Homo sapiens: one gene and its partners. The protein of the gene in region 2 purifies or fractionates together with the protein of the main gene of each other region. This does not show direct contact. Each region holds a gene or a part of one and is shown on either strand. Other genes may lie near its edges. The genes, in order: IPP, COL16A1, COLGALT2 and P4HA2.

Region 1 (8,045 bases), about 14 Mb from region 2:
TACAGGCGTGAGCCACCGCGCCCAGCCTTATTTTCATATTAAAGAAACAGAATCAAAGTTTAAGTCACTTGTCCACAAGTTGCATGGTAAAGCAAGTTGCAAGGTAGGGGTTGACATCAAAGTCCATGCTTTTGCCATAAAAAAGAAGGAAATCATGTGCTTTACAGCAACACAGATGGAGCTGGAGGCCATGATTCTAAGCAAATTAACACAAGTACAGAAAACCAAATATCATATGTTCTCACTCATAAATGGGAGCTAAACATTGCATACACGTGGACACCAAGAAGACATGGATACACATTCGGGCCTACTTGAGAGTGGAGGGTAGGAGGAGGGTAAAGATTGAAAAACTACCTATCAGGTATTATACTGATTAACTGGGGGACAAAATTATCTACATACCAAGCCCCCAAGACACACAATTTACCCATGGAACAAACCCGCATATGTACCTCTTGAACCTAAAAGTTGGAAAGAAAAAAAACAAACAACAACAGCAACAACAACAAATAAAGTCTATGCTTTTAACATAAGGTTATATGCATGTAACAGACATTTACTGAGGCACTGGGGAGAGTAAGACAAGGTCTCTATCTTCAATTATGATAAAACGCCACATAATGTTCATTTTTTGTTTGTGCTTGTTTTGAGACAGTGTCTCATTCTGTTGTCCAGGCTGGAGTGCAGTGGCGCAATCTTGGCCCACTGCAACCTCTGCCTCCCACGCTCAGGTGAGCCTCCCACCTCAACCTCCCGAGTAGCTGGTACTACAGACACTCACCACCATGATCGGCTAATTTTCTGTGGTTTTTTTTTTAGAGACAGGGTTTTGCCGCATTGCCCAGGCTGATCTCAAACTCCTGGGCTCAAGCAATCCACCCACCTCAGCCTCCCAAAGTGCAGGGATTATACACAATGCTAGTTTTTAATATTAGGAATAACCAATAATCTATAACATAAGAGAAACTATTAAATACTTAACTACGTATACCACTTTCTTTTCCAAGGGCTTCACTTTCTTTTTTTTATTTTTTTATTTTTTTATTTTTTTCGAGACAGAGTCTCACTATGTCACCCAGGTTGGAGTATAGTGGTGCATCCTCGGCCCACTACAACCAACACCTCCTGGGTTCAAGTGATTTTCCTGCCTCAGCCTCCTAAGTAGCCAGGATTACAGATGCGCACCACCATAACCAGCTAATTTTTGTATTTTCAGTAGGGACGAGGTTTCACCATGTTGGTCAGGCTGGTCTCGAACTCCTGGCCTCAGGTGATCCACCCACCTCAGCCTCCCAAAGTGCTGGGATTACAGGCGTGAGCCACCACACCCATCTTTTTTTTTTTTTTTTTCTGAGACAGGCTCTTGCTCTGTTGCCCAGGCTAGAGTACAGTGGCATGGTCTCTGCTCACTGCAACCTCTGCCTCCCAGGTTCAAGCAATTCTCCTGGCTCAGCCTCCTGAGTAGCTGGGACTACAGGTGTGCGCCACTAAGCCCAGCAAGACTCCGCCTCAAAAAAAAAAAAATTAGCCAGGTGTGGTAGCATGTGCGCCTGTAGTCTCAGCTACTAGGGAGGCTGAGGTGGGAGGATTGCTTGAGCCTAGGAGTTTGAGACCAGTCTGGGCAACATAGCTAGACATAATCTCTACAAAAAAAATTTAAAAATTAGCCAGGCATGGTGGTGTGTGTTGTGGTCCTACAGGTACTCAGGAGGCTGAGGTGGGAGGATAGCTTGAGCCCTGGAGGTCAAGCTGCAATGATTTTGCCACTGCATTCCAGCGTGGGTGACAAAGCAAGACTCTGTCTCACAAAATAAAAAATAAAAGAGGCTGGGCACAGTGGCTCTCCCCTGTAATCCCAGAACTTTAGGAAGCTGAGGTGAGTGGATCACTTGAGGTCAGGAGTTTGAGACCAGCCGGGCCAACATGGTGAAAACCCGTCTCTACTAAAAAAAAAAATACAAAAATTAGCTGGGCATGTTAGTGCAAGCCTATAATCCCAGCTACTTGGGAGGCTGAAGCAGGAGAATCGCTTGAAACTGGGAGGCAGACGTTGCAGTGAGCCAAGATTGTGCCACTATACTCCAGCCTGGGCGACAAAGTGAAACCCCGTCACCAAAAAAAAAAAAAAGAGTAATATATATTCACTGTGGAAAAAGAACTTTAAGACAGAAAAACTAAAATGAAAAACATATTTTTCCATACACAGACATACATTGTATTAACACTGTAGTGTCTTTCTTCACATAGTTTTTCTCTCTCTCTTTTTGAGACAGTGTCTTGTTCTGTTGCCCAGGCTGGAGTGCAGTAGCATGATCATCACTCACTGAAGCCGCAGCATCCTGGGCTCAAGTGATCATCCCATCTCAGCCTTTCAAATCTTTTTTCTATGCATATTTATTGCATATCCTGTAAGACTATACATCGTTTTGGTGTGCCTTCTCTTTCTTTCCCCTTCCCCTACTCCCCTCTTCATCATTCCAGTTGTTTTATTTTATTCAGAGATGGGGTCTCACTCTGTCTCCCAGTCCAGGGTGCAGCAGCTTGATCATAGCTCACTGCAGCCTCAAACTCCTGGATCCTCCCACATCAGCCTCCCGTTAGCTGGGACTAAAGACACAAGCCACACACCCAGCTAATTAAAAAAAATTTTTTTTTGGCTAGGCGTAGTGGCTCACGCCTGCAATCCCAGTACTTTGGGAGGCCGAGGCAGGTGGATCACGAAGTCAAGAGATCGAGACCATCCTGGCCAACATGGTGAAACCCCGTCTATACTAAAAATATAAAAATTAGCTGGGCATGGTGGCACGTGCCTGTAGTCCCAGCTACTCGGGAGGCTGAGGCAGGAGAATCACTTGAACCTGGGAGGCGGAGGTTGCAGTGAGCCGAGACCACGCCACTACACTCCAGCCTGGTGACAGAGCGAGACTCTGTCTCAAAAAAAAAAAAAAATTTTTTTTTAGCCTGGGCAATGTAGTGAGACCCTGTCTCTACAAAAAATTTGTTTTACATTAGTCAGGCATGGTGGCACATACCTGTAGTCACAGCTATGCAGGGTGGTGAGATGGTAGCACTACTTGAGCCCAGGAGATTAAGGCTGCATTGAAGTGTGAGTGCACCACCACACTCCAGCCTAGACAACAGAGAGAGACCCTGTCTCAAACAAAATTTTTTTTGTTTTAGAAATGGGGTCTTGCTATGTTGTCCTGCATAGTCTTGAGCTCCTGGCCTCAAGCAATCCTCTCACATTGGCCTCCCGAAGTGCTGGGATTACAGGCATGAACCACTGTGCCCCTGTGTACATTCTCTAATGTTATTAAAACTCTTCAAAAACATTTAAGAGATAGTTTTGAGTAAAATAACATATGCTGATTATAAACACTTTGTGGAAAAAAATTACCTACAGATAAATGCTATCAAACATTCTGGCTGCTTTCTCATGTGTAAATACATATAAGTTTTTTTGGGTTGTGTTTCAAACAAAATAGGGGTTTATTTATATCCTGATTTTTAAAATTTTATATATTGTAAACATTCTTCCATAATAGTATACATATATTTTAAGATTTGTTAGATCTCATTTGTGAGATCTATACATGTATCATAATTTATTTAGCCATAAAACCTACTGAGACAAGATTTTATTCAATTATATACTACTATAAATAAAGTCACAGGCCAGGCGCAGTGGCTCACGCCTGTAATCCCAGCACTTTGGGAGGCCAAGGCGGGCGGATCATGAGGTCAGGAGATCGAGACAATCCTGGCTAACACAGTGAAATCCTGTCTCTACTAAAAATTAAAAAAAAAAAAAAATTAGCCAGGTGTGGTGGCATGCGCCTGTGTCCCAGCTACTCAGGAGGCTGAGGCAGGAGAATCGCTTGAACCTGGGAGGCAGAGGTTGCCATGAGCCAAGATCGCCCCACTGCACTCCAGCTTGGGCGACAGAGAGAGACTCCATCTCAAAAAAAGAATAAAATAAAATAATAATAATAATGTTACAATAAAATCCTGGTTTGTAAATATGTGCCTGCATCACTAATTAATTCCTTCAGATTCCTAGAAAAGGAGCACCGGGTCATAAGATATGAATTTTCAGTCACATAATAACATGTTGCTAAATTACCTTCTAGATAAGTTAGATCAATTTATATTTCCACATTAGTGCATGAGTGATTGAATCATTCTTCAGTCAAAGCAACAGACTCATGTAACATACCTGTGTAAATGAAATCTAGAAGTATCTGAAAGATTCCTGCTTCAATTCCTAGAATCGGTACAACATCTTTTGAGGACTCTTTCATTCCTCCAGTGAACAAAGCTGCAAAGTAAGGACTGCTGGCAGCCAAAACCAGCCGATGAGCTTTAAAACTTTCCTGTCCAACTTGCAGCTGCACATCACAGAAATGCTGTCCATTTCTCATCTTATTGATTTGGGCCAAGATGAGTTGGGCATGTTTATCTGATGAAAAAGGACTATCAGCAGCCTTGGGACAGTCCTCATTAGCCATGATGACGGTAGATTAATTAAAAGGACTGTTGCCCATAATCTGTTACTACCCTGAAAAACAAAATACAAAGAGATCAAGCAACAAAATTTTTTTAACATGCTTTCTATTCACACATAAGAAGCATTCTCTATACTTAAAATCTACTTAAGGACATAAAACAAATAAGGACTAAAGTGTGGTACTATTACTATTTCTAATATGGTTTCAGAGAATGAAATAAGTAGGGAAGCTAAAATAATTGGAGAATGCTTCACACAAGAAATGGGACCTGCACTAGAAACTGAAAGATAAACAGTTAATATTAAGGTATGAGGAGAGGACACTTCTTGATGGAGTAAAAAAAATAATAATAAAACACAAAGACAGAAAGTTAACAAAGCACACATCACAGAGCACACATCACAGACAACAGCAACTTTCGAAAAGCAGTTGTGATCAGTCTAACTGCTTAAAATCATTCAATGTGTACACTTCCCGTAGCACACAAAGCCCTTCGGGATTCTTGTTATAATTTAAGACTCTGTTCAAATATAACTTCCTCCAGGAACCTTTCCCCATTGCTCCTCTGGAATTGTGGAAATATGTTCCCAAACTCATCTGAGTTTGTTGCTCACCCTAAGCTTATTGGTTTTACATTCTATAGCACAGGTCTACCTTATCAAATACCCTACCACCCTACTCTTAGTGCGCGCATGCGCGCGCACACGAGCGCGCGCGCGCGCTTCAGAGCTCCTTGAAACACAGCCCTTTAAAGGCAGGTACTATCTTTCATAGCTTTAGCACCAGTATATAACATATGTTAGGTTTCCAATGTTTGTGAAATGAATGAGAACAAGGAGAAATAACAACAGCTTAGGTTGGGTTTTTTTTTTAACTTTTAACTTCTCCACATATTATGTCAATGGTAACTCTCACAATAATTAAGAGGTGAGAAGAAAAGATAATCTTATCTAAAATGAGAGAAAAGGAAACTGAAGCTCAAAGTTTCCCCAAGGATACAATGTTAGTATGACAGTCTCAGTATCTGAATCCAGGCCTTCTTACTCTAAATCCAGGACTGTTCCACCATATCACACTGCATAGGAATTATTAGGCCACCGGACACGTTCTAAATTACTTTTTAAATAAAGAAACTGCTGGGCACAGTGGCTCACGCCTGTAATCCCAGCACGTTGGGATGCTGAGGCGTGAGGATCACTTGAATCCAGGAGTTCGAGACCAACCTGACCAACATGACAAAACCCCGTCTCTTCTAAAAATATAAAAATTAGCCAGGCGTGGTGGATCAGGGCTATAATCCCAGCTACTTGGGAGGCTGAGGCACAAGAATCACCTGAGCCCAGGAGATGGAGGTTGCAGTGAGCTGAGATCACACCACTGCCCTCCGCTCTCCAGCCTGGGTAACAGAGCAAGACTCTGTCTCAAAAAAAAAAAAAAAAAAAAAAAAAAAAAAAAACCATGAGATCCTGTAATATAAGACATATGGAATAGCACAGGGAAATTTAAGATGACTAAGATTTTGTAATTTAGGTATCAATGACAATGGGTAATAAGACTTATAGTGTGGGCTGATGTTAGAAAAAAAATGGTTACGTTTATAGCATTTAAACTTATCAAAGTCAAAATAACAAGGCTGATTATCATCACTTTCTAGGAATTAACTTATTGAGAAATTTGATTGAGAGATTCGAAGGTAGCTGCTAAAACTTCATATCACCATCTACAGAATATCAACATATTACATATAACTAGCATATAATAGCAAGAAGTGTTTGAGGTGATGAATATGGTAATTACCCTGATTTGATAATTATACATTATATACATGTATCAAAATATCACACTGTACCTCATAAATGTAAATATAAAACAATTATTATGTGCCAATTTAAAAAATATCTATTTTGGGGGACAGGGTCTCACTCTGTCACCCAAATTGAAGTGAAAAATAAATTTTTTAAAGAGGGTGAAAGGGGCTGGGCACAGTGGCTCATACCTGTAAGCCCAGATTTTTAGGAGGCTGAGGCAGGCAGATCGCTTGAGTCCAGGAGTTTGAGACCAGTCTGGGCAACATGGCTAAACCCTGTCTCTACTAAAAATACAAAAAAATTAGCCAGGCATGATAGCACAGGCCTGTAGTCCCAGCTACTCAGGGGAGGCTGAGGTGGGAGGACCACCTGAGCCAGGGAAGTCCAGGCTGCAGTGAGCTGAGATGGTGCCACTGCACTCCAGCCTGGACAACAGAGCAAGACCGTGTCTCAACAACAACAACAACAAAAAGCAGGTGCGGTGACTCACGCCTTTAATCCCAGCACTTTGGAAGGCTGAGGCGGGTGGATCACCAGAGGTCAGGCGTTCAGGACCAGCCTGGCCAACATGGTGACCCCATCTCTACTAAAAAATACAAAAAATTACCCAGTCATGGTGGTGGGCGCCTGTAATCCCAGTGACGTGGGCGGCTGAGGCAGGAGAATCGCTTGAACCTGGGAGGCAGAGGTTGCAGTGAGTGGAGATGGAGCCACTGCATTCCAGCCTGGGCAACAGAGAGACTCCGTCTCAAAAAAAAAAAAGGAAAAAAAGGGGGTGGGGGCGGAGAAACCATGTATTTGGCCCTACACAGAAATGTGACCTGGAACTATTATCAACATGACATGACTGTCAGGCCTTTTCTGTTTTACATTTCTGTCAGCACATTTTGAACCCTAGTGGTTTAATTACAAGGTACCTCCTCTGTCCCCTACTTCAAGGCATCAAGCACAGCCACTGAGCTAAAATGCTGCCTCCTGCTACAAGAAAGAGTTGACTGAATATCCATTCGGGTGGCAGACAACAGAAATACTAGTCTGTTACCATGCTTCTCAGTAACTGCTGATACCATCCCACTGTCAGTGGAGTAGGAACGTCATCCCAAAAGGTGGCATGTGGAGTGACCATATTTCCAAAGGAAAAGAGCACAATTCTGTGACGTTGCATGCCTCACGTGCCCCAAACTTGAAAAGCAGATTGTTGACTGGGCAAGGTGGCTCACACCTATAACCCCAGCACTTTGGGATGTCCTGTCGGGAGGATCGCTTGATTTTTTGTTTTTTTTTTTTGTTTTGTTTTTGTTTTTTGTTTTTTTTTTTTTGAGACGGAGTCTCGCTCTGTCGCCCAGGCTGGAGTGCAGTGGCACGATCTCGGCTCACTGCAAGCTCCGCCTCCCGGGTTCACGCCATTCTCCTGCCTCAGCCTCCCGAGCAGCTGGGACTACAGGCGCCCGCCACCACGCCCGGCTAATTTTTTGCATTTTTAGTAGAGACGGGGTTTCACCGTGTTAGCCAGGATGGTCTCGATCTCCTGACCTCGTGATCCGCCCGCCTCGGCCTCCCAAAGTGCTGGGATTACAGGCGTGAGCCACCGCGCCCGGCCAGGGAGGATCGCTTGAGTCCTAGAGTTCAAGACCAGCCTGGGCAATACAGCGAGCCCCCCGCCGCAAAAAAAATTGTTTTAACATTAGCTGGCTGTGATGGGGCAAGCCTGTACTTCCGGCTACTT
Region 2 (8,652 bases):
GATTGCGCCATTGCACTCCAGCCTGGGTGACAAGAGCGAAACTCTGTGAAAAAAGAAAGAAAGAAAAAGAGAGAAAGAAAGAAAGAAAGAAAAGAAAAGAAAAGAAAAGAAAAGAAAAGAAAAGAAAAGAAAAGAAAAGGTATTACTGGCTGCCAGGTGGGAAGAAAGAAAGAAAAGAAAAAAGAAAAGAAAAGAAAAGGTCTTACTGGCCACCAGGTGGGAAGTAAGTGGGTGGTGGGGCCCCAAGGCAGCAGGCAGATCAGCTGGGGGCTCTTGCAACAGCCCAGCAGAAGATGATCATGGTCTGGGTGAGGGTTGCAGCTGTGGAGGTGGGGAGGAGTGGATGGACGTGGGCTGTATTTGGGGGGTAGAACTGACAGGATTGGATGGGGGTGGTAGGGAAAAGAAAGGAGCCAAGGTTTTCAGGTTTTTACCTGAGCATCAGAATGAATTATCGTGGCATTTAAAGGGATGAGGAAGTCAGGAAGGGCATATCTGTGAAGAGTAATCAATCATGTGTGATGTGTCTGCGTGTGAGCCCGTATGCGCATATGCCAGGGCCCAGGTGTGCACGTGTACATGTGGGGGTTCTGGTCCACTGTTCAAGCCTCAGAACTTTACACCATCTCTGCTTGAACGCGTGGGGGCTCCCGGACCTGTCCTGGGACCAGGCCCTGGGTTGGCTCTTCAACCTGCCCCAGCCCCAGGGGCTGCCCCTGCCAGACAGGGATTCCCCAGTGGGGGGCGGAGGGCCCTTGGGCACTGCCAACATCTGGGCATACTACCCCAGGTCCAGAAGGCCTTGGTAGCCCCATGCAGCAGCAGCATGCAGGCTCCAGGGCAGCTGGTGGTGATTAGCAGCATTGATTACCTCGTGGTGATGCCATCTGGGGTGAGGGCGCTGAGCCCAGCCTCACGGGATACCCGGGTTGCTGGCGTGCAGGGCTTTCTGGCACTGACTGCATGTAAAAGTGTCAGCACAGCTGCATGTATGCATGTGTGTACATGTGTCAGTGTGTGCATGTCCCAGTGGCTGTTTCTCTGGGAGCCGAGTCTGTGTGGCCATCTATGTCTGTGTGCACACATGTATGTGCTGCAGGTCTGCAGGCTTCTCTGCTTGCATATCTGAGTAATTATGCCTGTGGTCACATGTATGTTTATGTGCACACATGTCTATGTGTACAGGCATGTGTCTGTGTGTGCACATTCGAGTATATACAGTGCTGTATGCAGGCATTCTGAGAATTATGTACCTGTGTTTGGATATGTCCAGGGATATATTTCTGTGGGGTAATCTGGGCTCTTACATGTGTTTCTGTGTATCTTTGATGTGGAGGCGTATCTTGAGTCTCTACACATCTGTGTGTAACTGTTTCTAGGGCCAGGGTGTGTCTGTGTGAACATGAGTGCCTATACATGCATATGGAGTCTGCGTACTCAAGTGCTGTGCTAGAACTTTACCTGACTGCGTGTTTCTGGATGTGTGCACGTATGTGTGGAAGGGAGGAAGGGGCATGGGCACATTCCTAGACTGTCTATGATAGTGTTTCTAGGCGTAAGGTGTGTCCCAGGCTTGGCTGTTCCTGTGAGCACCCTTGGGGTGCTGTGGGAAGGCATCTGGCTCTCCCTTCTCAGGTTCCTCCATCCCTGGCCCAGCCACCTGCCCTGTCTGGGGCACGGGTGGGAGCTGTCAGGATGGCATGGTGGTTAAGAGCACGTGCTGAGTCTAGGCTGGCTGGACATGAGTTCTGCTCCACCACTGACTAGCTGTGGGATCCCGGGCAAGTTGTGTTTTTCCTGTGCTGCAGGTTTGGGAATAAAAATGGAATTCTGCCTTAAGGCGTTGTTGTAAAGATCGAAGGAGTTAGCATATGTGAAGTTCTCAGCACAGAGCCTGACCTATATGCGCTTCCCACCTCTCCCGAGTGCCCACTGCTGGGGCAGCACCCTCTGGTAGGGCAGGCGGGGCCTGTGCCCACCCACCCCGCAGGCCAGAGTGCTCAGAAGGCCCCACCCCCTCCGCTTCCCGCCTGCTGAGCTCAGCACTTCCCAGGCCCCACCACTGCCACAGCCACATCTGGGGCCAGCTCCTCACTGGGACCACAGTGGGGCGCCTCTGTGGCGTGGTTGGGGTTTCCGCTGACTCAGCGCCTCTGGGTCTGGAGGCGGGAAATCCCAGGCCTGCCCCTACAACCTCCCCCTACCCCGGGTTAGCCGAGGCCACAGGGCTAGGCGCGTTGCTTCCACAGAGCCCCCAGAGCCCCCCTCAACTGGGGACGCTCAGTTTCTCCCTCTTCAGCCCAGCATCTCATGGCCTCTTGAACCTACTTTGTGGATCCTCAGCCTTGGTGCCAATAAATTTGCTTTCGGTCTACAGCGGGAGGAGACCCTTGGTGGGGATTCCACCTTGGTCAACGGCCCTGCCTCTGGGCAGAACTCGGAACATTACCGGCTCCTTCCTCCTCAGAGCTCCAATCTTTCAGCCCAGCTCAATTCCTCTTGCGTCCTTGGACCGTGAATATAAAGCAGGTCCCTCCCCAGTGCTGGTGTAAAGGCTTGAAATCCAGTCCCGTCCCCTGCCAGGGATCACAGTAATAACGATAATAGCAGCAAATATTTACTGAGCTCCTCTCATGTGCCAGACCGTGTGCTAAGCGCTTACAGCCTTTGGCCCATTTCCTGCTTACAGCAAAGGTCTATGAGGCATATACTCTCACGATCCCATCTTCCAGATGAGAAAACGGAGTATGGTTACACAGCACATTTGGAACCGCAAAGCCAGAGCAGGGGCCAGGGATTTGAGCCCTTCCAACCTCATGGAGTAAGGAGGAATAAGGGGACTCCCTCAGTCTCACTTCTCTGGGAGTCAGGCCAGAGCAGAGGGGGTTAATTTAGCACGGAGGAGGGAGGGGGTTCCCACCCTCCTCCTCCCAGTACAGACAGACCTAGGGACAGACTGACTGGGAATGTTAGGCAGAGGAATTGGAAAAAGCTGACCACCGAGGCTTGGGCGGCAGCCACATCATGGGTGCCACGCACTTGGGAGGAGGGTCTCTACCCTGCTCCCTCCACCCCTGTCCCCTCCCCGCCCCCCCACCCCGCAGCCTTCTGGGGGCCCAGCCAGGGACATGGAAAGGGGGAGCTCTTCAAACTCCAGGCCTGACTCTTAAAGGGCCCGCAGGAGCCCCCTTCCAGGGCAGCTCTGGGCACGTAGGGTCCCGCCTAGCTCGAGGATCGCTCACCTGGCGGTGAGGCAGGAGGGGCGGGCCTGGGAGCTCGGCCAGACCCGGGGCGGGGCTGTGCACCCCGCAGTCTAGCCGCCTCTGGTGCCGCTGGAGCCCCCTCTAGGCCCTCCTCCTCCTCCTCCCTGGCGGGCCGGTCCAGCTGTGTTCCATTAGTGTCCCTGGCAGGCCCCCAGCCCCCTGGAACCGCCTCTCTTCCCCCACCCGGAGTGGCCGGCAGTCCCCGGCAGGCGTGCGCCGGGCAGCAGACAGCCGGGAGAGCTCGAGCGCCAGGAAGCTGGGGACCCGTGACCGTCACGGAGAGATAGAGAACCCCTAGCGGACCTGAGGAACCTGGGCTCTGCTTCCTCCGCCTGCTGCCTGGACTGCTCAGTGAGGTGGGGGGATCCCCGGCCACCGGTAAGTAGGGATACAGTGGGCGGCCTCAGGGCTCTGGGCTGAGAGGCCCTTTCTGCCAGACTTGCTGTGTGACCTGAGGAAAGTGGCATTCCCTCTCTGGGCCTTGGTCGTCTTCTCTAGAGCGAGATGAGCTCTAAACTCCATCCTGGTTCTGACTCCCTGCGCCCAAATCTATGCCTCTGTGTTGGGGTGAGCCGTCTCCTTGGAAGCTTCTCTGGCTCTGTCCTTGCAGCCCTGCACTCTGGCTGGAGCCTGAGGAGTGGCGACCAGAGACTAGGAGCCGGAAGGGGACAGGATCACATCCATCCTCACGCCTCCACATGCACCCACATGGCGCCACAGCTGGCAGCCCTTCTATTGGCTGGCAGGAGGAAGACCAGGATAGGGTTTGAGAGCTGGGATGTGTATATCACTAGGATGGGGGATGAATAGGCAGGCTGGGGGCACAGTTCTGTCCCAGGGAGAAGGGGGCTGGAGTCCTATCTCCAAATATATTGGGGTAAGGGGTCCTTTCTGTTTTCATTTCCTATCCATGATTGAGGGAAGGAAAATTGGATTTCATTAGAGTTGGAAGGAATGCAGTCAGACTTGCATTAGAACTTCCCAACAGGAAGACCTACAGGAGGAGTGGTCATAGGCTGGCTGTGCGCATGTGGGTATATGCAAGCTGGTGTGTCTGGGTATATCAGCGAGCATATGTTTCCGTGAGCATGCCTGTGTGCAGATAGCTTTGTATGCACACTGGTACCACATATGTGTCCTTATGTACATGTACCTGCGCATCTGCATGTGCTGTGCTGACACATGCATGGCTCTGTGTTTGTGCACGTGAGCTGCCTGTCCTGGGGGAGGCCAGACGATGTATGGCTCTGCTGGCCACTTGCTGAGCCTGCATCGATTTATCTGGGCCCATCCATCAGGGTTTAATAAAACTAAAAGACAAGCATCCATCAGCTGGGGGCGGGGGTGGCTGGCAATGAGGTCCTGAGCCCTAGAGACCTGCTCTCCTGCCCACTATACCTATGGGGAAAGCTTCCTTGGCCCCCACACAGCCCTATGGAAGGCTGTGGCCCACAATCTCAGCCCAGTCACCAGCCCCTGACCCTGTGGGTGCCTGGGAGGGCTTCCTGGGCTGAGCTGGGTGCGCTAGTAAGGTATCAGGCTGGTATATATACCAGGACAGTGCACAAGATGCTAGACTTGAAATACTTCCACGTGTCTTGAAGAATAGCCTCTTCTTTAAGCCCTCATCACTATTCCAACTTCTCTGGCCTTCTAAGACCTTCTAGACCTCTCCCAATCCAGCAAGTATCCACTGGCACAGCCAGATGCTGCCTGGACACTATTTCAGTGCAGTAGGCAGCTTTCTGCTTTGCCTGAAAGCTGGTATCCGTGCCATACCGGTGGTTAAATATTTTGAATATCGCCTCTGCTCAAATCCTAGCCCAAGGGCTGTGGTTGGGCCTCTGAGAGAGACTGATGCCTGGCCAGACCTCCTGCCACCCCAATACCAGTGCCTGGGCCCCACAGGCTGTCCACGACTTGCCCACGTGTGGAGTTGTGCTGTGTGAACTCAGAAATCCGCCTTCCCGGTCTCTGTGGTTTTCAGGTGCTGTGGCTGTAGCTGACCTCTTTGGACCGGGATGTGGGTATCCTGGGCTCCTGGCCTGTGGCTGCTCGGTCTTTGGGCTACCTTCGGCCATGGGGCAAATACAGGTGAGATGACACAGGAGAGTCACAGTATCACAGGCCTGCAACTGGTATCCTGGGGTGCTGGGGTCCTTGCACATATGTGACCATGTATGTGTGGTCGTGTGGGCAGTTATAGCAGAGTCTAGGGGCTGGGCTCAGGGTGATCTGAGGTGTTGGCACCCTTGAGCCTGTGTGCAGTGAGCTGGAGAGTGTGTGTGCCTGTGTCTTCGTACGTTTATGTCTCTGAGCATCTCTGTGTTTGTCTCTCAGACTGGCTTTGTGCATTCGTATGTATTCCTGTGTCTCTGTGTGTAAGAGAACAACCTCCCACCCCAATACGTAAGCCAATCCTGTGGACACATTGCTGGTAGGACCAGTGGGGTGGGGAGGAACAGGCAGTGAGCTCTCCCTGCAGAAGGACGCCGCCTCCCCAGAGAACCCCAAGTCCTGCTGATCCTTTTCATGGTGGAGACTCCATCCCTCTAGCTCACGTGCTTCTCCTCCTCCACGGCTGGCCCTGAATCTCTAATAAAAGGCCCACCCCGAGGCCCAGACTCTGGATGAGACAGAGGGTGCAGCTTTCCAGGGCCCAAAGCCAGGGGAAGTTGACCGGGCAACTTGCCTGGCCTTGCTGGGTGCCCTCTGGGCTCAGTAGCTCAGCTGCTTCGCCAAGCAGGAACAGAACTCCTAGGACCCAAACCCAGCTAGGAAAAGCAGAAAAACCAAGAAGCTGAGGTGAAAGGGATTGTGGACCCAGGGTGAGTGTGGCCGCCTGCCCCTTGTATGTGCACATATGTGTTTCTGCTTGTGTGTGCGTGAGCTTTGCTCTCCTCTCCCTCACTGGGTCCCCTGGGGGGGATGGGGCAGATAATTTCAACATCTGTAAGGAATCTGGGCCCATTGCCAAGGGGTGAGTCACCCATTGCTGCTGTGATGCTGAAGACAGTGATGGTCTTTCTGACCAGACCTGGGGGAGGGAGAGTGCAGTGGGGTCATTGGCACCGGGCCCCAGGGCCCCAGGATTCCTTCTTCCAGCCAGTCTAGCCAGAGAGTGCAAGGCCAGCTTCTAGGAGCTGTCTTCACCGTCTTCTCCCACCTATCCCTCTGCATTGATGAGAAGGCCTTTTTGATTCTGGCCTCTGTCTTTCCTGTTGTAGCACCTCCCCCAACACTTCTGCTCAGTCAGCCCCAGGGCGAGGGAGGCCCATGGCTGCCCACCTGTTCTTTCAGGGCTTTGGAAACCTGAGTTAAGCTATCTCCTTCTCTGGGAGCCCTAACCCATTAATATGCCCTTCCTGGAGCTCCAAGGCCCTGGTGGTACCCTTGAGCTTGTGGTCCCCTCAGACCCTCAGTCTCTTCTCGCTGTTTCACAAGGTGGTTATTCAGGTAAATATTCATTCTGTTGGCTCCTACTTGTGTCTGGCCTGCTTGTCTGATTTGGATGTAGGACGTTCCTATTGCTGAGAACACGTGTGCCAGCTGCACATGTCATCCCTCGTGGCATGGGCACCTACAACTCCCACATGTACAGACACGTACATATAATTGTACATAACACACAATGTGCATGATTCTGACATTTCCTTACCCCTGAAGAGCTCCTCTGCCCCCCACCTGGGTGTATGTCATGGAGGGGGCACATGTGTAAATACACAGCTCCCCACTCCATCTGTGCTCGAGAGCCACCTAGAGCTTCGTGTATTCTCTCCCTTGCTGGCCTAGCTCCTGACTTGGAGTGCTGGGAGATTTGGGTTCCTGGAGTTCTGGGCCTGCTCTGCTGTTGGCTCACTTAGTGACCTTGGCCTGGGCCTCAGTCTCTGGACCTCAGTCTTCCAAACTGTATGCTGGGTTGGGGGCCTCCAGGCTTCCTGGGGAGCCAGGGTCAGAAGGCAGGTGGTGAAGGCAGGATCTAGCTGATGGTCCAGAGTGAGGACTATAAACTTGCTCCCTCCCAGGTTCCCCAGGCGTCCAGCCGTGCAGCAACCTTGGCCTGAGCGCACCTAATGCCCCCCTGCCCCTTCTCTTCTAGGTGCACAATGCCCACCTTCACAGCAGGAAGGACTCAAATTGGAACACAGTAGTAGCCTGCCAGCCAACGTGACTGGTGAGCACCCAACCATCTCATCGCGCCGTCCCTGCAACCTTCCTCTGGGAGTGATCTGTACCCCTCTCCACCTGCTCAGCTGAGCTCTTCACCTGATGTCTCCCCCAAAGGCTTCAACCTCATCCACCGACTCAGCCTCATGAAGACGTCTGCCATCAAGAAGATCCGCAACCCCAAGGGGCCTCTCATCCTGCGCCTGGGGGCGGCCCCCGTGACCCAGCCCACGCGGTAAATGCATCCATGTGACCACTGAGAATCAACACTGACCTCAGCCACACTCCTCAGCAACTCCAGATGTGGGGCTTAAGCCCAGGGGCCTGTCTGTGGGTCATTGCATCCCAGCCCCTGCCAGGAGTCAACCTGGTCTCCACCCCTGGGCTTGCAGGGTGGGCTGAGAGGTGGTACCTGGCAGACCTACCTTCTGTCTTTCCCCTGTCTCTGGCCAGCAGTGGGTGGGAACAGGTCTGCATCCTGTGGGCACTGTGAGAACACAGGATGTGGGCGGGAACCTGGCAAGAGTCATGTGCGTGTGTGCATGTGTGTGTGTGCGCACATGCGTGTGTGTGCACCCATGTGTGTGAAGTCCAAATTCCCACAAGCCCTGGCCTGGCCCCTGCTTGCCTCTTCAACCTCAGCTCTCAAAATGCTCTTTTTTATCTCTTGCTGCTCTGGTCATGCTGAACCCTTTCCATCTTTTTTTCAGTATCTCTCCTTCCACCCTTGCTCCAGTTATTCACCTAGGGTATTCTGGGTTCATTGGAAGCACTTATTCAAATTGCAATGCGATAGCGAAATAGTCATTCTGGGGATTCTTTGCTCATGGCCTCCCTGCCCCCATCAGACGTGAAGGCTCCATGAAGGCAGGCAGTGCCTCTGTATTTTCACCACTGTGTATGTGGGTTTTTTGTTTGTTTGTTTGTTTGGTTGGTTGGTTGGTTTTCTTTTTGAGACCAAGTCTTGCTCTGTTGCCCAGGCTGGAGTGCAGTGGCGTGATCTTGGCTCACTGCAACCTCCACCTCCTGGGTTCAAGCAATTCTCCTGCCTCAGCCTCCCGGGTAGCTGGGATTACAGGCGCCTGCCACTACACCTGGCGAATTTTTTGTATTTTTAGTAGAGACGGTGTTTCACCATGCTGCCCAGGCTGGTCTCCAACTCCTGGCCTCAGGTGATCCGCCCACCTCGGCCTCCCAAAGTGCTGGGATTACAGGCATGAGC
Region 3 (8,045 bases), about 150 Mb from region 2:
AGCTTTTGGCTAACACTGTGATAAGGAATTTTTGTTTTGCTTAGTTTTAACTTACTCCTCTTCATAATGTTTTAAGTGAAGAATAAGGTGCTTTATGGTAAATTCTGAGTTTCAGGAATTGCTCTCTGCATGCTTCCTATCACGAGACCAGTGGTTAGACTCTCATTGCGCTCTTCATGGCGTACCCTGGACGTTGGTAGCTTGTGGCCATGAGTCACAAAGGATGTGACTTTTGCTGACGTTGCACTTTTTGGCACAATCACAAACTCAGTGGAGCCTGTGGCCTTCTTCCACGTTGCTTTCTGGACCACTTTCCCACCTCTGTGAGTTGCTAAGGGCTCCTCCTACCCCATCTTGGTCCTAACATGCTCACCTGGTATCCCTCAAAACTGTCAGATTCACACATCACCTCTCTCCCTCTCCAGGCCATGGAATGTCCAGGTGGGCCTGTGGGTCGTTCTCCCTCCTAGACCTTGCCGAGAAGAGAAGAGTTGGTTCTCATCTAATTTCAAGAAGACACTTGAAAGTAGATCAAGTTGGCCATTGGTGTCATCTGTAGTTATTGGATAATGTTTTTAAGTAGGCTAGTTTTAATTTAAGTATCTATTTTACAAGATAATATTTTCAAATATTACTTACATACCTCTATGTCCCATTTTTCTACACCCTATGGCTTAAGTTACATAGTTTTAAGTTTCTTGGTATTTTACAGAAATGTATTCCCTATCTAAATAGAGTTCCACTGTGCTTTGCTTAACAATGTATTTTTCTCTCTTGAACATTCCTGAACATTCCCTCTCTTAAAGATTATTATTTTAGGAGATAAAAAAAATTTTTTGAATATATTTAGTGGCAATTTAAAACCAATTAAAAACTATAATGTTTCATGTTTAATGAAAAGGAGTTTTTTGTGTTTTATTTATTTATTATATTTATTGAGAGAGCATCTCGCTCTATCACCCAGGCTGCAGTGCAGTGGCCCGATCTCGGCTGACTGCAATCTCCACCTTGCAGGTTCAAGCGATTCTCCTGCCTCAGCCTCCCAAGTAGCTGGGACTAACAGGCACGTGCCACCATACCCAGCTAATGTTTTTTTTTTTTTTTAGTAGGGACGGGTTTCACCATGTAGATCAGGCTGGTCTCAAACTCCTGACCTCAAATGATCTGCTCACCTTGGCCTCCCAAAGTGCTGCAATTGCGGGCATGAGCCACCGCACTTGGCCTTTATTTATATTTACTTTCAATTTATTTTAAATCATCCTACAAATAGCAGTGAAAGTAATGATGCAATAGAAGCTAAATTATTTCATGTGTACCTCTGATCATTTTTCAAAACTGTATTATATCATATATATTTTTGATGAAACTTTATTTATTTTTAAATTTCAACTTTCATTTTAGATACAGGGAGTATATGTGCAGGTTTGTTCCATGGGAATATTACGACACCCTTATCATATACTAAATTTCTGTACTTACTGTTCTGTGCCACTGGGCTCCCTATGTCATTTATCCCTGTGTCATTACCACACAGTTTTAATTGTAGTGGCTTATTTTTTTAGTATCTGCTTGAATTGTATTCTGTGTGGTTATTAAAAACCAGGATTAGGTGTGGAATTTTGTTAAAGACCTTTTACACATTTACAGAGATAATCATGATTTTTCTTCAGGTCCATAAACATAGTGAATTATGTTAGTGAAATTCCTTCATATTGAAAATTCTTAGACCATGCTATATTTTCTTAATAAGATGTTGGACTCTGTTTGCTAATACTTCATTTAAGATTTTTGCAGCATGTGCATTAAAGGATATTGGTCTGTAGTTGTGTGCCTGTGTGTGTGTGTGTGTAAATCTTTATAAGGTTTAGACATCAATATTATACTTGCAATATTAGAAGAACTTAGAATTTTCATTTTTTTCCTGCACTCTGGATAACAAGCTGTATAGCATTGGAAGTATCTATTGTAGGATTTGGTAGAATTCCCTTGTAAAAACACATGAGCCTAGTTGGGGTTTTTTTCCTGTTTACTCTCTTCTTGGAAATTATTCATTTAAGCTTTATATCACTTCAGGAGTTAATTTTGCTAACATGCATTTTTCTGGAAAATCTTCTATTATATTTAGTTTTCAAATTTATCATCGAGTTGTACAAAGTAGTTGCTTACACATTTTTAAAATTTTTCTTTCAAATCAATCTTCTTGTTTCCCATCCTTACCATTTCTTATTGTTTTATATTTGTTTGTCTTAGGTAGGTTAACTACAGCTTGTCTTTTATTGATCTTTCTCAAAGAAGTAGCATTTTAGTTTGTTTCTACTCTTTTTCTGTTTTATATCTCACAACTTTCTACCCTTATCTTTATTAATTTCTTTATATATGTTTGCTTTGTTGCTTTTTTCCTAGCTTTTTGAGTAGAAATTTAACTCATTTATTTTTATTTATTTAAGCATATAAAACTGAATTTTTCTCTAATCACTGCTTTAATTGTATCCCAAAATTCTGATATGTAGTATTTTCATTATTAATTTTTGGAAGTTCTGAAATTGGTTTGTATTTATTTTTCCACTAGTAATTGTTATTTTTTAAAAAACAACTTTATAAGAGAGTTTTTAGTGGATTTGGGGGATTTTATTTTATTATCAACTTCTACGTATATGTCATTTAGATCAGAGAATGTTGTTTATATAATTTCAATTTTATGGAGGCTTTCTTTGGGATGTAATTGTTGGTCAGTGCTAGCAGATGTTCCATGTGCACTTGAGAAGTCTCTATTAGTATGTTGTACAGATCCTATATATACTTACTTGTTTCCCCATTTGTACCATCTTTAACTGAAAGTGGTATGTTAATATCTCTTATTATTGTTATTTCTGTTTTTCTTTACAGTTTCTATACTTTCTACTATATTAGGGGTCAGCAAATTATAGCCTACAGACTGCCTGTTTTTGTAAATAAAGTTTTGTTGGAACACAGCAATGCTCATTCATTTACATATTGTTTATGGTTGATTTATCACTACCATGGCAGAGTTAAGTAGTAGCTGCAGATAGTATATGGCCTGTAAACCTAAAATGTTTACTATCTATCGCTTGAAAGAAAGTTTGCCAACCCCTGTAATATATGAAAATGTATAGATATTCATACTTTGTATATTTTGATGTGAATGGCCTCCTTTAGTATTATAAAGTCTCCTTCTTTGTCATCTTAATACTCTTTGGCCTGAATTCTACCTCGTTTGTTGTCAGGATTACAACTCCTGCTTTCTTCTCTTTTTCTGTTTTTCATTTCATTATCTCTTCATTTATAGGTGTTCTGAATAACTGTTTTACATGTGTTGGGTTTTGCTTTGTGATACAATTTGAAAATACTTTTTAAATAAATGAGTTAGGCCCTTTTACAAGTGGATCCATTTGTTAAACTTTCAGGGTAGAACAGGCACAAGTTTTGTGTACATTATTTAAAGGCTTTGGAAAATACTCTATTTTGTAAACGTGATGGTAAAGTTAATCCAAAATAGATAATTGAACATACCTTAAATTTTGAGTTTTATATTGAGAATTATTATTGTAGCTTCACAATGATTAAAGCAGCATTGACTAGATATTTTGCTGCGGTCAGAAAATTGACTTGAAATGAAGATGAAGCAGAATTATTGCTCAAATTGAGGGTCATTGTTAATGAAGTTAAAAGGTGGAGTTTACATCCTGGGTAACTGAAAGTTAAAACATATAGAAAAATTTCCAAGAAGATTCATTAATTGACTCTCAGTTAATTCATTTTATGCTTACACTCTCTTGGTGTTTTCATGTGTTTATTTATTAATGCAACCATTTACACGTTCTCCAATTGGCTGAGCCCTGTTTTAGGATCTAATGACACAAAGATGATTTTAAGCAGTGTCTCTCACTTTGGAAATTTATTGTCTAGTTTGGACTATGAGGGAATTATTTTCATATATACAATTTTTTTTCCAGGAGTAGCCATTCTTCTTTCAGTTAGTCAGGGGTCTTTTGGATTTCCCTCTCTTTCATTGGATGACATAGTTAAACTATATTGTGCTTTCTCTCATGCAGGGCAGCCACTGATCACAATGTGGATAATACAACAGAAATATTCAGGGAGTGGTTGAAAAATGTACAGAGACTCTATCACTATGTGGAGTGGAGGCCTATGGATGAACCAGAGTGAGTAGCAAGTGCGAAATTTGTAAACTCATTATTTACCCTTCCTCTTTAACTAGCTCTTTAGGGCTTCCAGGTTTGGAGGTACATGTGACTTTTCATTGTCTTTCATTTCTGTAGCTATGTGAGTTCTGAATATCTGCCATTTCTCCCTTTTAGAGATCTTCACAGTACTCTCTTGCTGTTTACTCCCACAGCTGCCAGCCAAGTTCAGATTTTCATTACTTCATAAATAAATTGCCATGACAGTTTATATTTTTAAATATTGATATTATTTATTCATATTTTAAACAAACTTTTATATTTGGAGGATCATATTGAAAATGTGTATACTTTCTACATAGAGCTTGCTTTTTTCAACTTTTATCTTGATAATCATTCTATAGCAATAGTTAAGGAGCTAATTTTCATTTTTTTTACTGCATAATCACTGTTGTATGTGCATTTACCATAATTATTTAATTGATCCCCTACTGATGCTCATTTAGGTAATTTCCTATCTTAACCATAGAAATTCCTTCTTTCTTTCTTTTCCTTCTTTTCTTTCTTTTCTTTTCTTCGCTTCTCTTCTCTTCTTTCTCTCTCTCTCTCTCTCTCTCTTTCTCTCTTTCCTTCTTTCTTTCAAGACAGGGTCTCACTCTGTCACCCCAGCTGGAGTACAGTGGCATGACCATAGCTCCACTGTAACCTCGTACTCCTGGGTTCAGGCAATACTCCTCACTCAACCTCCTGAGTAGCTAAGACCACAGCCATGCACCACTATGCCTGGCTAATTTTATTTTTATTTTTTGTAGAGACATGATCTCACCATGTTGTCCAGGCTGGTCTTGAACTCCTGGCCTCAAGCGATCCTCCCACCTTGGCCTTCCAAAGTGCTGGGATTACAGGTGTGAGCCTTTGTGCCTGGTTACCATAACAATTTCTTTCTTTTTTTTTTTTTTTGAGACAGAGTCTTGCTATGTCACCCAGGCTGGAGTGCAGTGGTGCAATCTTGGCTCACTGCAACCTCCGCCTCCTGGGTTCAAGCAATTCTCCTGCCTCAGCCTCCCGAGTAGCTGGGACTACAGGTGTGTGCCACCACACCCAGCTATTTTTTTGTATTTTGAGTAGAGAGGGGATTTCACTATGTTAGCCAGGATGGTCTCGATCTCCTGACCCTGTGATCTGCCCGCCTTGACCTCCCAAAGTGCTGAGATTACAGGTGTGAGCCACCGTGCCCGGCCACCATAGCAATTTATTAATTGCTTCTATCTCCAAGTCATCCTACATACCATACAGTCAAATCAATCTACCTCAAATACAAATGAAATGGTTTCATTTCTTTATTAAAAATACTTCACTTACTCTTTAGGACCTGAACAAAGTTCAAACACCTAAGACTTATATTTTTAAAATTCCATGAATTTAGCACCAAAAGAAAATGTGCTTTATCCAGAACGTTTCTTTTATTTCCAAACCCCACACTGTTGCTTGTGCAGGTCCTGGAAGACCCTTTCCTTCTTTATAACTAATTCTTATCCTAAATCATGCCTACTATAGAAACCTATTCTTAATCACTCAGTTATAAATATCTACCTTTGTCTCAACAATTGTATTGCTTATATTCTATGTCATCCTTTTTGGCACAATGATATACGCAACCAACATTTTCCCCCTATGCAATTAATGTATTTTTTTTCTAAATAAGTTGTAAGTTCTTTGGCAGGGGCTAGAATATATAAACACTTTATATTCCCCCTCTCCCCTCAGAGCCATGTTCTTGGCAGGCACTAAATTAATACTGGTTGGATGAACAAATAAGAACAAGAATAAATGTATTTAAAACTTACTATTATAAATGTTCCCAAAGCTACTACAGTTTTACTTTAAGGAACTGTAGAAATAGAATGAAGGAGTTGCCTGAATTTCTTCCCCAGAGAAGTCATTTATTGAAAGCCAAATTTGTATTATAGTAATAATAAATGCCATTCCAGAACAAGTTTCTGTTCTTCTAGTCTTTCTATATGTAAGAATTATTATAAATATTTATATTATAAAGAAATATATATAAATATGATATAATATATACATATGTGTTTCTCAAATCCAAGCCCATGGACTGTATATCAAGCAAAATTTAACAGTGAAGTCTGAACACCGTAAAAGATTGTAAACACTCCTTTAGAGTGCCTTATAATGGAGTTTGGCCTAACAAAAATGGCACAGAAATACTTTGTGTCCCTTCTTTGCACCTTGGTAATGTTCTCTGCAGCCAGGTTTTGACTAAATATATTATATGCCAAGGTCAGTGTGAAAAAATATTAGAACAGGCATTTTTGGGGGGAATATATTTAGAAAAATGAGAATTCCACTGATTTTCATTGAAACAATAACTGGGGAAGATATTCCAGAGAATTCCTGTGCTGTACATAGTTTTATTAACCTTATTTGTTTAGTTACAGTCTCATTGTTTTTGCAGTTTTTCACTCACTAAAACAAATGTACTGCCAGTGCAGCTATGAGATCTTGAAGTGGTGGCCAGTTTTGGGTTACTGCAACAGTATCAATGTCCGTGCCAGCTGGGTGCCTTCAGAAGGGTTTTGGAGCGTGCTCCAACCCACTTGCCTATGTGGCCATGAAGGAGTCTTGGCCTGGCTGTTTTGTGAATCTTGATAGAGATCCCACGACCTCACTTTACCTAAGATAGATCAATGTGTTAGGCTGTGTGGAATCATTTGTGGAGACTCCAACAAGTAGATTAAACCTTTGATTTTCCTGGGAAACTCATGTTTTACACTGCATACTCTCCAAATCTATTCGATGTCGGGATGTATAAAAATTGTCTAGGAACATGAGCTTTTTGCTTGGATTCAAATCTTGATTGTGCCCCATTGTGTAACATTGGACGAATGACTTAACTGCTCTACCCTGATATCCTCACCTGTGAAATGCAGAGAATAGCAGTACTCACCTCAAAGGGCTCTCATTAGAACCCACTGAAATATTTCATGTAAAGATTCTTGTATACAATGAGCAGTGAGTTACTTGACTTCTCATTGCTCCGGTTTCCTCATCTGTAATATGGGGATGATGATAACAATAATAATAGTATCTACTTCCTGGGATTGATAGAAGATTAAATGAATACATATAAACATTTAGGACAGAGCCTGGTACATGTAGGCACTCAATAATGATGAGCTATTATTATTATTTTAGGTCTTACCCTGATGAAATTGGACCAAAGCACTGGCCAACCTCCCGGTTTGCCCATGTGATGAAACTACGACAGGCAGCCCTTCGAACTGCGAGGGAAAAATGGTCAGACTACATTCTGGTAAAAACAGATGTTTGATTTCTTGACAACTGTCATCTCAGGTGTATCCAAATCAGTCGTCCAAAAACTAGAACCATGGAAGCAATCAAAACAACCTTTTTGATTAGGCAGTGCCTCCCCCACTTTTTAAGAAAGGCACAATGAAATTTTTGGTAGTTTAAAATTGGGCTACCTGGACTTCATCTTCAGGCCCACATGCATTTTCAGTGGGTAAGTGAAGAAGTGCCTGAATTATTTGGTCTCTGCCATGCAACAGGCATAAGAACTCTGCATATTTTTAGCTCACAGGAAAGGCTGTAGGTAAAGCAATGTAAGTTGTTCTTACAACTTTTTGGAAGAATTTGGGGGATATGAAAAAGTAATTATCTAAAAAAGTGATTCAGCTGAACAGCTCTGAAATGGTTCCCTTTTGCTCCTGAATGATCTGGGGAGTAGCATCTGTTGCTTGGCACAGTGATGCTCTCTTTGGAGAATTTATGTCCATCCCCATCCCCTCAACCACAGTGAAAATCTGCCCAAAAATGTATCACGCACACTTGTGACACAAA
Region 4 (8,045 bases), on a different chromosome or scaffold from region 2:
GTACTCCAACCTGGGTGACAGAGCCAGACTCCACCTCAAAATAATAATAATAATAATAATAATAATAATTATTATTATTATTATTATTATTTACTGATTGTAGCCATGGGGTAAGAATGAGGATCCAGAGCAATGGGCAACTACTAAGAGGCAGAGAAACCAAAATAATTTTTGACAGTGTCAAGGGGCATTGAAAAACCAAAATTAGCCAGTAGTTTCTCAGAATATTGAATAAGAGGGAGGAGTGGAGAACTTGGCCACTCAGCCTGTTTACCCACTGAGGCATTTTCTGAATTCTGACGCTGTGCAGAATGCAAGGCTAAGAAGGTAAGCAAAAAATATCTGCTTAGATTCAAAAATTCAAATTCTTTGAAAAGGAGGATAAATTTTTTGGGCTGAGTCTGGTACTGAGAAGACAAGAATTAGAGTTGAGGAACTGCCAGTGGAAACAGATCCAGTGAACACACTAGGCTCTCAATTAGAAAATCCTGGAGGACTACATCCTATAAGGGGGGAAATAAGGGTAAACCAGAGATAGAGTCTTAAGAAAACTACCACCCAGTCTTAATTTTAAGTCAGCTCAGATCCTTACTGGATTAAGGTGATTGATCCCCACTCTGCATAGTAGAGGAAAGGGTGAGCCCTTTGTGCAGGAGGTTATCCATCCAGAGGCTCTACAATTTGTCATACACATTCAATCAAAAATTGCCAGGCATATCAACAGAGTGGACCAAATGACCAGAAACTAAGGAGGGAAAAAGACAATAGAAAGAGAGCCATAGAAAATCGAAATCATGGCGTTATCGGACAAAAAAATTCACATAACTGATTTATCAGTCCGAGAAAAACACAGAGAAAACAGAAGACAGATTCTCCAGAGAGTTAAAATCCATTAAAAGGACATGAATGGGCCAACCGTGGTGGCTCACGCCTGTAATCCCAACATTTTGGGAGGCTGAGGCAGGTGGATCACTTGAGGTCAGGAGTTTGCGACCAGCCTGGCCAACATGACAAAACCCCATCTCTACTAAAAATACAAAAATTAGCTGGGTGTGGTGGTGCGTGCCTCTAATCCCAACTACTTGGGAGGCTGAGGTGGGAAAATTGCTTTAATCTGGGAGACAGAGGGTGCAGTGAGCTGAGATCCCGCCACTGCACTCGAGCCTGGGTGACAGAGAAAGACTCCGTCTCAAGGAAAAAAAAAAAAAAAAAAGACATGAATGGATATTTTAGAACTGAGAAATATAAGAAAAATGAAATTAAGAACTCAGTAGATGGGTTTAGCAGCAAAAGTAATAAATGAATTGCAAGACAGATCAGTATAAAATATCTAGTCTGAAACACAAAGAAAAAAGCATGAGAGACACAAGAACTGGAGATATATAGAGCACTATGAAAAGTTCTAACATTCAGATTACTGAAGTCTCAGAGCAGATAGAGAAAAAATGGGACAGAAACAATAGTTGAAGATATAATGTCTGAGAAATTTCCAAAATTGATCAGACATCAACCCAGAAATTCAAGAAGCTAAATGCCAAGCAAGAAAAGAAAAAGAAACCCATACTAAGTACACCATAGTAAAACTACTGAAAACCAAAAAGAAAAAAATCTTTAAAGCAGCCAGGTGAAGGCAAAATCACCTTCAAAGGAACAACAAAGGACCAGATAGCGACTTTTCAACAGAAATGGTATAAGCCAGAAAACAAAGAATTACATCTTTAAAGTCCTTAAACAGACTCCTGTATGCACTTGATAGAAGACAGAATTAGTGAACTTTGTACAAAACAGCTATAAAGTTCTCCCCAAATATAGCATATATATAAAAATATGAAAGACAGATTAAGAGATAATATCATGATATGATCCAACTTACATTTAATCAGTTACAGAAGAAACAGACAATGCTGAAAGAAAAAATCATTTAATTTTCCACAATTGATTAAGGATACCATTGTACAAATTCAAGAATCCAAAAAAGTCTCAAACAGGAAAAGAAAAAACCTACAAACAAACCACCTAGTGTGCCAGTCACGTTTCTATTCTCAGCTGCAAGCTCATCCTTGTAGTCTCTACTGTTCTACTGTAGCTGCCACTCTGTAAACTACATTTCCCAGATTCCCTTATCAGCTGGCTTCCTGTTAGGGTCTACCAATGGAAGCCACTAGAGGGAGATTAGACGGCAGTAGATAGCAATTGCCCTAGACCCAGTGGTTTTTTGCATGAGACAATTTTATATATTAAGCCCCTGAGATTTAAGGATTATTACTACAGAAAAAGCCCATCCTATCCTAATAAAATATGCAAAAAATTAAAAGTAGAACTTTACACTTCATACCACGTATAAAGATAAACCTAAATGACAAAGACTATATAGCTTTCAGAAGAGAACACAGGAAACATCCTCATGATCTTGGGGTATAGAAGGATTTCTCAAATAAGACATAAAAAACATAAATCAAAAAGAAAAAGCTTGATAGATTTGACATAAAAATTAAAAGCTCCTGTTTATCAAAAGACAGAACTAAAATAGTGAAAAGACAAGCCACAGAAGATATTTGCAAAATATATAACAAAGAACTTGTGTACATATTTTAAAATTTGTATGAATAAGAACACTTGAAGAAACCTAATAACTAATAAACATGAAAAGTTGTTCAACATTATCAGTAATGTTCAAATAGACACTATACATGTACTGTCTTAGGTAGAGCTGCTATAATAAAATACCATACATTGAATTAAAAACATTTATTTCTCATGGTTATGGGAACTGGAAAGTCCGAGATCAAGATGCTAGTAGGTTTGTTTCTGGTAAGGGCCCCCTGGTTCATAGACAGGCATCTTCTTGCTGTGTGTTCGCATGGCAGAAAGAGGGCTGGGATCTCTTCATAAGGGCACTAATCCCACTCACGTGGGCTCCATGCTTACGACCTCCCAAGGGCTCCGCATCCTAATATCATCACATTGGGGGTTAAGATTTCAACATATGGGCCGGGCGCGGTGGCTCACGCCTGTAATCCCAGCACTTTGGGAGGCCGAGGCGGGCGGATCACGAGGTCAGGAGATCGAGACCATCCCGGCTAAAACGGTGAAACCCCGTCTCTACTAAAAATACAAAAAATTAGCCGGGCGTAGTGGCGGGCGCCTGTAGTCCCAGCTACTTGGGAGGCTGAGGCAGGAGAATGGCGTGAACCCGGGAGGCGGAGCTTGCAGTGAGCCGAGATCCCGCCACTGCACTCCAGCCTGGGCGACAGAGCGAGACTCCGTCTCAAAAAAAAAAAAAAAAAAAAAGATTTCAACATATGAATCTGGTGGGGGGACACAAACATTTAGTCCGTAACATGTACCAAGCTAGCTAAAATTCAAAAGTATGAAAATACTAAATACTGGAAAAGATTGGGGTAATAACTCTCATTTACTCCTGGTGAGAATGTGTATAACCACCTTGGAATACATTATTTAGTAAAGTTGGAACACCATTAAGACTCCACATTTCCACTCCTAGATATATATCCTACAGAAATATGTGTTTATATGTGCACCAGGAATCATGTATAAAAATGTTTATCACAGCATTATTCACAATATACAAAGACTGAAATCAATTCCAGTGTTTATCAGCAGCATGCTGCCTGTATTATGGTACAGTCCTACAATAAGCATTAACAAAACTGAATGTACTATAAAGATTAAAACAAATTACAGCTACACAAGCAACACGGATGAATCTTAAAACAATGTTGAACAAAAGAAGCCACATACCCAAAAATATTTACTCTCATTCTATTAGTAAAAGTTCAAAATCAGGGAAAACAGAATAACTACTTATTTAGGGATCTAATCATAGATGGTAAAACTATAAAGACAAGCAAAGGAATGAGTACCACACATCATGAGACAATGATTTATCTCCAAAGTGCTGGGGGCAGTGAAGGAGATGTGATCTAGGAGGGGTTCCCAAGGGGCTCCTGAGGTACTGACTTGAAAACGTTCTCTTTTCTAACTTGGTGTTGACACAGGTGCTCCTGCTCACCTTCATATTTTTTTAAGTATACATCTGTGTATCATGAACAATTCTTATCTCAAAATTTAAAAATGAAGTACACATTATAACAGCATTACAATCATGAACACATGTGCTATGTTCTCTGGGAGACAAAGAGAAACTATTTACCCTACTTTCCAGAAAAGGACACTGACACTTAGAGGGAACACAAGTGTTGAAACCAGGTCTGAAATCCAAGACCCAAGATGCTTTTTTGCTGCTAAAGCATTCATTATCCAGACTCTGCCTGCATGAAGGTGATGCATAGGAAATGATGAACCTGGTAAAAGCTTCCAGTCTTAAAAATACTCCAAGTAAGGCTCTTTAAGGCTTCTGGTAGGGACATTTTATTTTTTGGTAAAGCCACAATAGATAGAAATGCCATAAAAACAAACATGTAAACAAGGTATCAGAACTTTGGTTCACTGAAACATCTCACACCTAAAACACCTGAGGTACAAAGGCACCTTGCTAGGCGCTAGACAGCTAACTCTGCTGCAGCCACTTTGATCCTAGCCTTGGGGCCAGGGATGGCACAGGCTGAATGGAAGGGCTGGGACTTCAGTCACACAGGAGTCGCCCTAGTATGGTCTCCCTCTGCTCCAGACAAACATTCATTTCTCCAAAAATCAGCCTGATAGGAACATACAAAGGAACATACAAAGGTGTCTGTCACGTTGACATGGGCTGAAGGACCAGGAAGGGGAAGGACAGAAAAGGATGTCAGTCAACTTCTGTTGATCCACAAGGTCTCAAGAACTCCTGTCCTCGTTCATGGAACCACTTATTGGAGACTGTGAAAAGAAAGCAAGCATGTTACAATCCTATTGGTCAGTTTAGTAGCCTGAATGAATGACTCCTTCATGATGACCCCCTGCACTGTGCCCTGGAATCAGACACAAATAAGACAAGACATGATCTCAGGCCTCAATTTGCTGAAGAATTGGTAAGGAAGACACATGTAAACAGATAATTGTATGAAATTCTGCCAGTGGGACAAGATACATGTGTGCAGGTTGCCATGGGAATAGCACCCAAGGGCATCTAATCATGCCCTTTCATGCCCATGACCTTTGATGCCCTTTGGCTCTATTCCCATGGCAACCTGCACACATGTTTCTTGCTCTTAGAGGGAAGAGGAAATCCTAGGGCTAGAATATAAAGCTACATAGAAGTTATCCTGGGAAGAAGATGGGCATACCCAGATGGTTCTCTCACCAAGAGGGTCCCAGGAGTGACAACAGGATGAGAAAGTAATCAAGGCAGAAGCCACCCTGACGTGTGTTGGGGACTCAAGAGGCCTAATATTACTGGGAGGTGGCAGGTAGAAACTGAGAGGTAGGGTGTGAGGATGAGGAAGACTGTCAGCATTGCAGAGGGCTTGGACATTAACCTCAGGAGCCGTGGACCAGCAGATCCAGTCTGTATGCCATGGGCACAAGAGCAACAGAGCTGCTGCCAGCACTATCACCCCACGCCATATCTTCAAACACACAGGAACCATGATTCTGTTCCTCACAGACTCTCTCATAATGAATAAAAATTTTATTTCAATGCACTACTGAAGTCACAGAGCTTTTAAAATATAAAGTAATAACATGTACTTCATTGAAAAAAATAAAATTGTCGCAAGGCTTATAATGATAAATAGCACTCCTCCTAAGCCTCTCCTTCCCATCCCTAATCTCCACTCCCAGGGAACATTAAACTCCTCTAGCTGTTTCTTCTGATATTTAACCTCATTTTTCTAGATAAGATGCTTATAGTTCTATTCCTTGACTTTCAACTTTGGAATTCTTTTATTCTACCCCTAAAACACAAACTCATCCCCTCCCACCTTTCCAGTACAGGTAAATCATAAGTTTTAGTTAAAGTAATACTCAGTGTGTACATAATTATATCATGTGTTACACCTGAGCCATCTAGTAGATTATACTTACATTTCCTTTCTTGTACAACTTTTTTTCCCCTGAATTCAGCAACTGCCTTGTTTTCTTTTCCATTTGCTTAATTATCTGCAAACCTATCACTATTTATCTTCAAAACTCTCCAAGGGGGCTACACACTCATCTCCTTACAAACACTTCCTGTCATATCCTGGTTTGAGCCTCTCCGAGGCTCACCACAACTGCTCCCAGGATAAGGCTCAAGCTTGAGCCTCTGCAGTTTGGTCCCAGCCTCCAGCCTCATCTTCTGGCCCCTGTGCCACAGGCCTCCCTTTCTTCAAGTGACAAGGGAGCCAGCCCCCACACCCGTATGCTGGTTTTAGCCTGTGCCTCCATCCATATGGGCCTTGTTTGCCTGAGACACTCTTTCCCCTCACTGCTTCCAGCTCTCCACTCTGCTCCCTCAGAAGCCTTGCCAGAGGGTCCTGGACCTATGGTGCTTATGCAGCTATTCGTCCTCAGGCCTTCTTCAGCTTCCTGTGTATCTCTGAGTGTTTCCAACCAGCTGCCTTGGCATTTACCAGCTGCATGGACATTACATGGCTGGATGGTAATAACAGCAGAAAAAAACCTAAGAAGGGAGACAGTCTCAGCAAATTTGGCAGCAGTTGCCTCCCAGCTCAGAATCTAAGGCCAATAAGCAAAGCCCAAGCTGAGGCCACCAACACCAACACTACCCCTTAAGACACTCACCCCACTTGCAGCCCACAAGCACAGGGCAGGCAGCATGTCTTGTTCGGTAGTCACCTTCCCCGCTCCGCAAGAGGTTGTACCAGAACACAGCTGTACCCTGGGAAAGAGATGGCCTTTCAGAACACATTCTTAAGAGACTGTGCTCAGGGACCTGACTGCAAGCATCACAGAAGCTCTGCCCTGAGCAGAAACACCCTCATTTTCCCATGGACAGGGGATAGGGCTCTGGGACTCCAGCAACAGAGACATTTCCCAGAAAGCACCTACCTTTCTGAGGTAGAAGTCTGGGAACTCACCCGCCCCTGAAGGGACTTCCCTCCCTGTCCTTTCTTCACAGGGAGAAGCTGGGCTACCAGGTCAGACCCCAGGTGGGCTAAGGCACATCACAGTGACAATCAGGCAGGCCAGGTAATGGTACTGGGGGACATGGACAAAGTAAAGTCTGAGCCTTGCTTCAACCTCTGACCCACAAGAATCAGAACTTACCTTCTTAGGCCAAATTGCAGCCCCCAGATCAGGGAAGACGGTGGCACCACCAGCTTCTACATCACTCATCTGGAAATATAAGACATAGAGCTTGACCCTCCTACCCAAGGCTCTCAGAGCAATTGAGCCACAAAGGACATGACAAGGTATATAGATTGCCCTCCTCTCAGCATGAGTGACACTACTTGGTGTCTGCTCCATGGCCAGCCCTTTAGCCAAGAAAGGCTCTTCCCATGCCTACTTAACCAGTGTGATTCATTAGAACAGTCTCCATGTCATGAGTGTTCAAGAGTTGAGGCCCACAGGAGACCCACATCCGGGCTGTCCCTGGATGAAAATAATCTGAGTCTGTACTCAGAAAATGCCTGTTCTGACCCCACCCTTTGAATCCCCATCTAGCCTTGGCCTTGCCTAAGCCACTGTACTCTGCAAAGTGCCCTGACCAGGAGCTCTGTACTGTTTCCAACACCATGTGCAGTCCCCACTGCAGCTCTGTTTCTCTGGCTCTAGTAGTTTGCTGCTCTAGTCAGACCTTCACCTTCCCAGAGTAGCCACCCTTCCTGGGGCCAACTGAGTGGAAGGGTGGGGCACTGTGTCTCTAGAGGCCCTGCTTTCTCCTATGGTAAGGCCTTAAACTACATTGAACACAAGTTCCACACTAGCAAGGCTGTACTCATGCCCACAGAGCATGCCTTGACTCATGGCCAAAGCACTACTTCTTTCCCATCTGGCTCTCTTACTTTTTTTGTCCATAATTTAATAAAAATTGGAGGTAAAAAATATTTCCACAGGACACATACCAGACTCACTGAAGGGTACTTGACAGACATATGGTAAATGAATAAGACAAAAGCTCTGATGGCTTCTCACAGCCC

The links.
Region 1: the proteins of COL16A1 (region 2) and IPP purify together in Homo sapiens (affinity purification with mass spectrometry; one large-scale study listed by BioGRID and IntAct). This does not show direct contact.
Region 3: the proteins of COL16A1 (region 2) and COLGALT2 purify together in Homo sapiens (affinity purification with mass spectrometry; one large-scale study listed by BioGRID and IntAct). This does not show direct contact.
Region 4: the proteins of COL16A1 (region 2) and P4HA2 purify together in Homo sapiens (co-immunoprecipitation; one large-scale study listed by IntAct). This does not show direct contact.

The regions. Positions count from the first base shown.
Region 1 is NC_000001.11:45,741,901-45,749,945, forward strand, and holds part of IPP (actin-binding protein IPP), read right to left. Parts: intron 4,562-8,045; 5' UTR 4,512-4,561; coding exon 4,220-4,511; intron 1-4,219. UniProt on the Homo sapiens protein: May play a role in organizing the actin cytoskeleton.
Region 2 is NC_000001.11:31,698,826-31,707,477, reverse strand, and holds the start of COL16A1 (collagen alpha-1(XVI) chain precursor), read left to right. Parts: upstream 1-3,460; 5' UTR 3,461-3,641; intron 3,642-5,250; 5' UTR 5,251-5,284; coding exon 5,285-5,357; intron 5,358-7,362; coding exon 7,363-7,437; intron 7,438-7,547; coding exon 7,548-7,665; intron 7,666-8,586; exon of another isoform or gene 8,587-8,652. UniProt on the Homo sapiens protein: Involved in mediating cell attachment and inducing integrin-mediated cellular reactions, such as cell spreading and alterations in cell morphology.
Region 3 is NC_000001.11:183,974,549-183,982,593, reverse strand, and holds part of COLGALT2 (procollagen galactosyltransferase 2), read left to right. Parts: intron 1-4,073; coding exon 4,074-4,184; intron 4,185-7,379; coding exon 7,380-7,497; intron 7,498-8,045. UniProt on the Homo sapiens protein: Beta-galactosyltransferase that transfers beta-galactose to hydroxylysine residues of collagen.
Region 4 is NC_000005.10:132,188,242-132,196,286, forward strand, and holds the end of P4HA2 (prolyl 4-hydroxylase subunit alpha-2 isoform 2 precursor), read right to left. Parts: intron 7,240-8,045; coding exon 7,171-7,239; intron 6,782-7,170; coding exon 6,685-6,781; intron 4,840-6,684; coding exon 4,769-4,839; 3' UTR 1,906-4,768; downstream 1-1,905. UniProt on the Homo sapiens protein: Catalyzes the post-translational formation of 4-hydroxyproline in -Xaa-Pro-Gly- sequences in collagens and other proteins.